2 separate regions of the Homo sapiens genome follow, and region 1 is linked to region 2. The links come from fine-mapping of genetic effects on gene expression. A gene starts in region 2. The other region holds a variant in brackets. All regions are shown on one strand. Distances are from middle to middle. Region 1 overlaps GUCY2F (guanylate cyclase 2F, retinal). Region 2 holds the start of KCNE5 (potassium voltage-gated channel subfamily E regulatory subunit 5).

What was found. PIP is the estimated chance that this variant, and not a neighbour inherited with it, causes the effect.
Region 1: its variant is fine-mapped to the expression of KCNE5 in testis (GTEx, PIP above 0.99).

What each region holds. Positions count from the first base shown.
Region 1 is chrX:109,425,237-109,428,147 of GRCh38, reverse strand. The region is part of intron 8 of GUCY2F (guanylate cyclase 2F, retinal); the gene reads left to right. Among named protein-coding and RNA genes, the nearest start is that of GUCY2F, 55 kb to the left of the region's middle. The variant G/A (reference allele first, on the strand shown) is at 1,674.
Region 2 is chrX:109,623,618-109,626,528 of GRCh38, reverse strand. KCNE5 (potassium voltage-gated channel subfamily E regulatory subunit 5) reads left to right here and starts at 1,357. Exons shown (of 1, transcript NM_012282.4): 1 at 1,357-2,829. The coding sequence starts at 1,509. The coding sequence ends at 1,937.

The sequences.
Region 1 (2,911 bases), 200 kb after region 2:
CCAATAATTTTGACATCCATTGATAAATGTCGTATTCCATCATTGTTTCTGCATTTACTGGTTGACATTTTATTATAAGAAAGAATCTTCTCTTCTTCCTCATTTATTTATTCATTCAATTATTTATATCAGTGTGCACATATGGATTTTTATTTTATTCAATTAGTATCTATAATATTCATATCAATCAATCTGTCTATCTAAAACCATAAATTCATACTAAACTCTCTAATTCTAATCCAGTGCCACAGTGTTAATTCCGTTTCTTTTTTAACTTTTCCATATTTGTAATTTCCTTCTCTGACAGTGAAAAAACTGCCTTCCCATTATCCTCATGACATCTGTTTATGTGTTTCCTTCACTGACTTGGGTGGCCATGTCAGGTATAGAGTGTAACTCAAACTTAGAAAGCCAGGATTTTCTAGAATTTACCATGTAGATGTGCTTTAATGCTTTTTAGTTGAATGCTTTTTTGAAGCTGGAGGTGGATCTGATCATAGTGTCACTGTGAGTCCAGCACTGCCTTGACTACTTATGTGTATTCATGACCTCAAAACGTTAGGGCTGGGTACCAGGATCCAGATGGAAAGCAGATCTTTGTGAGCCAGATATAGAAAGGAGCAGTGCACAATGGGATGGATGTCCTTGAAAAACAAACAGCTGGAGTCAGAAGGCCACAGAGCTGATAATTTCCAACATCTTTTAAGATCACAACTTCTGCAAAATTGCGTGCAGGAAAATTAGGCTGTATCTCTTAGTCTCATGTTCTTCCCCATAATGTGGAACTGATTGGCATATTCCCTGTACTCCTATAAAGGCAAATGGAAAGTATCCTGGAGTTCTTTAAAGGAAATTCTCAGTTGTTAGAGAGTGTCTCTTTCTTTAAGAAATGTGAAGAGAAGGAAACTGCAGTTGCTGTGAAACAAAGTGTTTACTTTGTGAAAAAATATTTGGGGCCATTCTAGAGCCTCTATTGAGAATATTATCTTCCCTGTAGCCATTTCTTCTCCAGTGGGGCTGTTATTATGCCTCAGTACCTCAAGATCATGACCATGTGGTGAAATTGTATCCCCTGCTTACTGATGACGCTTCCCAAACAATGATTCTTTTGCCTTTGTTAAACACATTCACAAGCTTTTGAGGCTAATGCCATTCTCTGTTTTAGCATCTTCTACACCTCCTGTTACTTCCATCTACTCTCCATATTCGCTACCCTTAATTTATTGAATATTTTGGGATATGTATCATGGTCCTCCTCTCTACTCCAAGACCTGCTGTTATGCTGGTGACATCAATTGGACATGGACTGTGGACAACTATATATCTTGACTATTTCATTCTTTGCCATATCATCCTAATAATCTTCTCTTCCATTCTACTTTGGCCAAACACTGCTACCATTATATTAATACCTTCTGCTTTTCCATCTTCTATAACTGCTACTGAAAATGCTTCACCTGGCCGGGTGTGGTGGCTCACGCCTGTAATCCCAGCACTTTGGGAGGCCGAGGCGGGCGGATCACAAGGTCAGGAGATCGACACCATCCTGGCTAACACGGTGAAACCCCGTCTCTACTAAAAATACAAAAAAATTAGCCAGGCGTGGTGGCCGGTGCCTGTAGTCCCAGTTACTCAGGAGGCTGAGACAGGAGAATGGCGTGAACCCGGGAGGC[G/A]GAGCTTGCAGTGAGCCGAGATCACGCCACTGCACTCCAGCCTGGGCGACAGACCAAGACTCCGTCTCAAAAAATAGAAAAAAGAAAATGCTTCACCTCCCAAATTATGAATTCATCACACTCTCTGATTACAACCTCCTTTTATCCCAACTGTGCCTATATTTGACTATATCAGGTCTTCCAGTCTACTGACCTCTGCTTTCTCCAAACTCACAAGCCCTTGTTTTATTTACTTTATTGTCCAATTCAGAGTCTATAGTCTATCATTTGAACATGTTCTTATTAATATTTCTGTCTTTTTGGTCAGACACACTTGCAAAACTCTAGTTCTGTATGATCCCAACTCTTAACTTTCTTTGTGCTTGCACTTGAACAGCCAAATATTGTAGCAGAAAGTTATGCAGCAAAGTATATTGTTTCCACTATAAATTCATGGTTTCTTATATTTAAATGTCCCTTACTACTACCTCATAATTCCATTATACTTCATTGGTTAATTCACTTCCTACCACCCATACATCAAAGCTTCTCCATTTTCCTTGAAGCTCCAATGTCCTTCTCTTTCTCGATTTTTACTATTAGTATCCTGGTCCAAGCACCATCATCTCCCACTAGAGCTACTAAGATTGTCTTTTTTTCTTTTCATAGACTTAATTTCTTAAAAAAATTTATTTCCATAGTTTTTTGGGGGGAACAGGTAGTATTTGGTTACATGAATAAGTTCTTTAGTGGCAATTTGTGAGATTTTTGTGCACCCATCACCTAAGCAGTATACACTGAACCCAATTTGTAGTCGTTTATCTCTCGCCCCCCTCCCACCCTTTCCCCCGAGTCCCCAAAGTCCTTTGTATCATTCTTATGCCTTTGCATCCTCATAACTTAGCTCCCACTTATGAGTGAGAACATACGATGTTGAGTTTCCCATTCCTAAGCTACTTCACTTAGAATAATAGTCTCTAGTTCCATCCAGGTTGCTGTAAATGCCATTAATTCATTCCTTTTCATGGCTGAGTGGTATTCCATCATATATATAAATATATGTATATATGATGTGATATATATGTACACACATATAATATATATATATACATATATATCATATCTATACACACACACACACACACACACACACACACACAACAATTTCTTTATCCACTCGTTGATTGATGGGCATTTGGGCTGGTTCCATATTTTTGCAATTGCAAATTGTGCTGCTGTAAACATGCGTGTACAAGTAT
Region 2 (2,911 bases):
GGCTACAGCCCCTGGGTGGATGGTGGGCTGAAGAACGGTTGGGGAAGAGGCATCGGAAAACCTTCCTTTTTTAACCCATGGCACCTATAGATTGAATGGTCCCTGGACTGAACGGTCTTGAACAGGCAGCATTATTTTCAAGGTGTGCCTAAGGTCATACACTTTTCTTGCTTTCTGCTCTCATTTGGCAACTATGGACAACCAGACCTAGCCAGCACTACCTCATTTTTTCTACCCCACCATCTACAAACCAACCCTTTTCCTTTGTGAAGCTCAGTCTGTTTCCAATTTAACATATCTGGCCTGATCTTTGTCTTGGTGCCTTGTTTTCCCCTAAAAAAAGACAGCCTTTGAGAAAAAAATGGCTGCCCTAAAAGCCATTAGGGCCTAGACCTGTTACCAAGTCTAGAGAGGCACACAGCTGTTTGCTGGCCTAACTGGGAGTAGGGTGAGCATATTCTCTAGAACTGGCACTTTTCAGATCCCGAGATATCCACAGAGTGTAGTCAAAGGGCCTTTTAAAATGTGCATGCTACTCTTATTGGAAGAACTTGGTTTCACTTCTGGGAAGATGGCTTACTTACCCATGGGAAACAGGCTCCCATTATGAATAGTACATTCATGTGCTAAGATGTGTTGACTTTTCAAAAAGTGTCATAGGACATCAGAGCAGGGGTGCTTCCAAGAAGGTGTAATATCACTTATATCACCAGAAACCATTTTGGATAACCAGGGAGTTCTACTCTGCCTTGGCCTTCTAGCAGGTGCCTGAGCACTCAGTCACCAAATTCAGCCTGAGCATCTTCTGAATAAGATGCTCTCCTCCGACAAGGTGGGAGGGGGGTGAAAAGGGGGGCGGGGGGAAAAGGAAAGGAATGAGGACTAGAAAGATAGGCCTGGGTCCCTGTATATGGGAGTAACTTCCATAAAATGTGGACAAGGGGTCTCTGCTGCGGAAAGGCGTCTGCCCTCTCCCTTGAGCGCCCCAAGGCAGAGCTGCCTTAGGGGGCCAAATGCTGTATCTGGGCCAAAGCCTGGCCTGCAGGGCAGGTGGCCAGAACTTGGAAGGAATTCTCTTCCGCAGCCCAGGGTCCAGGCTTGGCCCCAGCAAGCTGCCCTGCCAGCGTCTGCTGCCTGGGGCCTCGCGCATTCCGAGCCCCCGCCCCCTCCGCCCGTCTCCCAGCCTCGCCCCCACTCTTGTCCCCTTCTCCTCCCCCCACCAGCTGTCCCCTTTCCCTGGAGCAGCGAGACAGCCAGAGCCTGGGAAGAGGCGGCCGCGGGCCGGAGGGGGCGTGGTGGGGAAGGGGAGGAGGGGCGGGAGTGAGGGAATAAGGAGGCCCCGCCGTCGGCGCCCCCAGCCACTGCGCGCTCGCCGGAGAGCTGGGTGCTACCGCTGTTTCCGCTGCTGAGCCCTGCCCGCCGGCCGGCCCGCTCGCTAGCTCGCTTCCCCTCGCCCAGGGGGAAAGGTCAGCAGCGTCCTGGAGCCGCCGTGTCACTCCCCGAAAGCCATGAACTGCAGCGAGAGCCAGCGGCTGCGAACCCTTCTGAGCCGCCTGTTGCTCGAGCTGCACCACCGGGGTAATGCCAGCGGCTTGGGCGCTGGCCCTCGTCCCAGCATGGGCATGGGGGTCGTGCCTGACCCTTTCGTGGGCCGCGAGGTGACCAGCGCCAAGGGCGACGACGCCTATCTCTACATCCTGCTCATCATGATCTTCTACGCCTGCTTGGCCGGAGGCCTCATCCTGGCCTACACCCGCTCCCGTAAGCTCGTCGAGGCCAAGGACGAGCCGTCCCAGGCTTGCGCCGAGCACGAATGGGCCCCGGGAGGCGCCCTGACCGCCGACGCCGAGGCTGCCGCGGGCTCCCAGGCCGAGGGCCGCCGCCAGCTTGCCTCCGAGGGGCTGCCTGCCCTCGCCCAGGGCGCTGAGCGGGTCTAAAACCACAGCCCCAGATTGCTGGTTCGCGCCCTCCTCATCTCGCTCATCCCTGGGCGCGCCTCCCACCTTCCACCCCCAACTCCCTTCCAGGGTTCGCCTCATCTGAGGCCCAGATAATGGTGAGAGGCCAGGAGACCTTGTCTGGAAGGCCCTGGAAGGAGAAGCACCACCTTACCCATTCGGGCCAGTTTCTCCCTCTTCACCCCTGCGCCTCCACCCCTACCCCGCACATCCAACTGCACTAAACTGCCTCTGCTCTCTTGTCTTCAGACAGCCCTGACAGCACGCTCCAGCCCTCTGGGAACTGAATCCAACACGTCCAACACTTGGCACTGAACTGAAGCAATGCATTCTATCAGAACTCTGGGCCGTCTAACTGGCAGCTGCTCCAGGGGCTGCCAGGGACTGCTCACTCTGCAGAGCCAACGGGCTTGCCAGGCCGACTGCAGCAGCTCCAGCTTCCAGTTGCCTTAGGGACAGAGACAAAGGAAATGAAGAGACCTCAGACATCTTTTCCCTCCCTCTCTCTTTCAGCAGGGAGCTAGCAGGACACTAGGACCAGTCTGTGGGATAGAATGAACTTAATGGGGGACGGAAGGGGGAGGAGTGCTCAACGGGGAGGGAAATGATCTATGACTCCAACCGTATGATTTTCTTGCCTCCCCAGTTTTCATCCCAGTGGTAACGCCTGATTTTTGGTAGCTATGCCATCTTCTGCTGAGGATTACCATTACTGGGTGTATCACCCCAGTACTTCCAAATGCCTCTCCTCTATTGATTCAGTTGTTATTGCAGTGTCTGCTTCATCCGTGGAACTTGAGGCTCAGATGCCCCCTGCTCTGTAACCCTGGGGAATGTCAGAGGCAGGTAATAAAGGTTGTTTAAACAATAACGCAAGACTCTTCTCTCAGAGATTCCAGCCTTAAGACCCAGTACCATATGGAGAAGGAATCCTTTTTCTTTTGCTTTTGGAA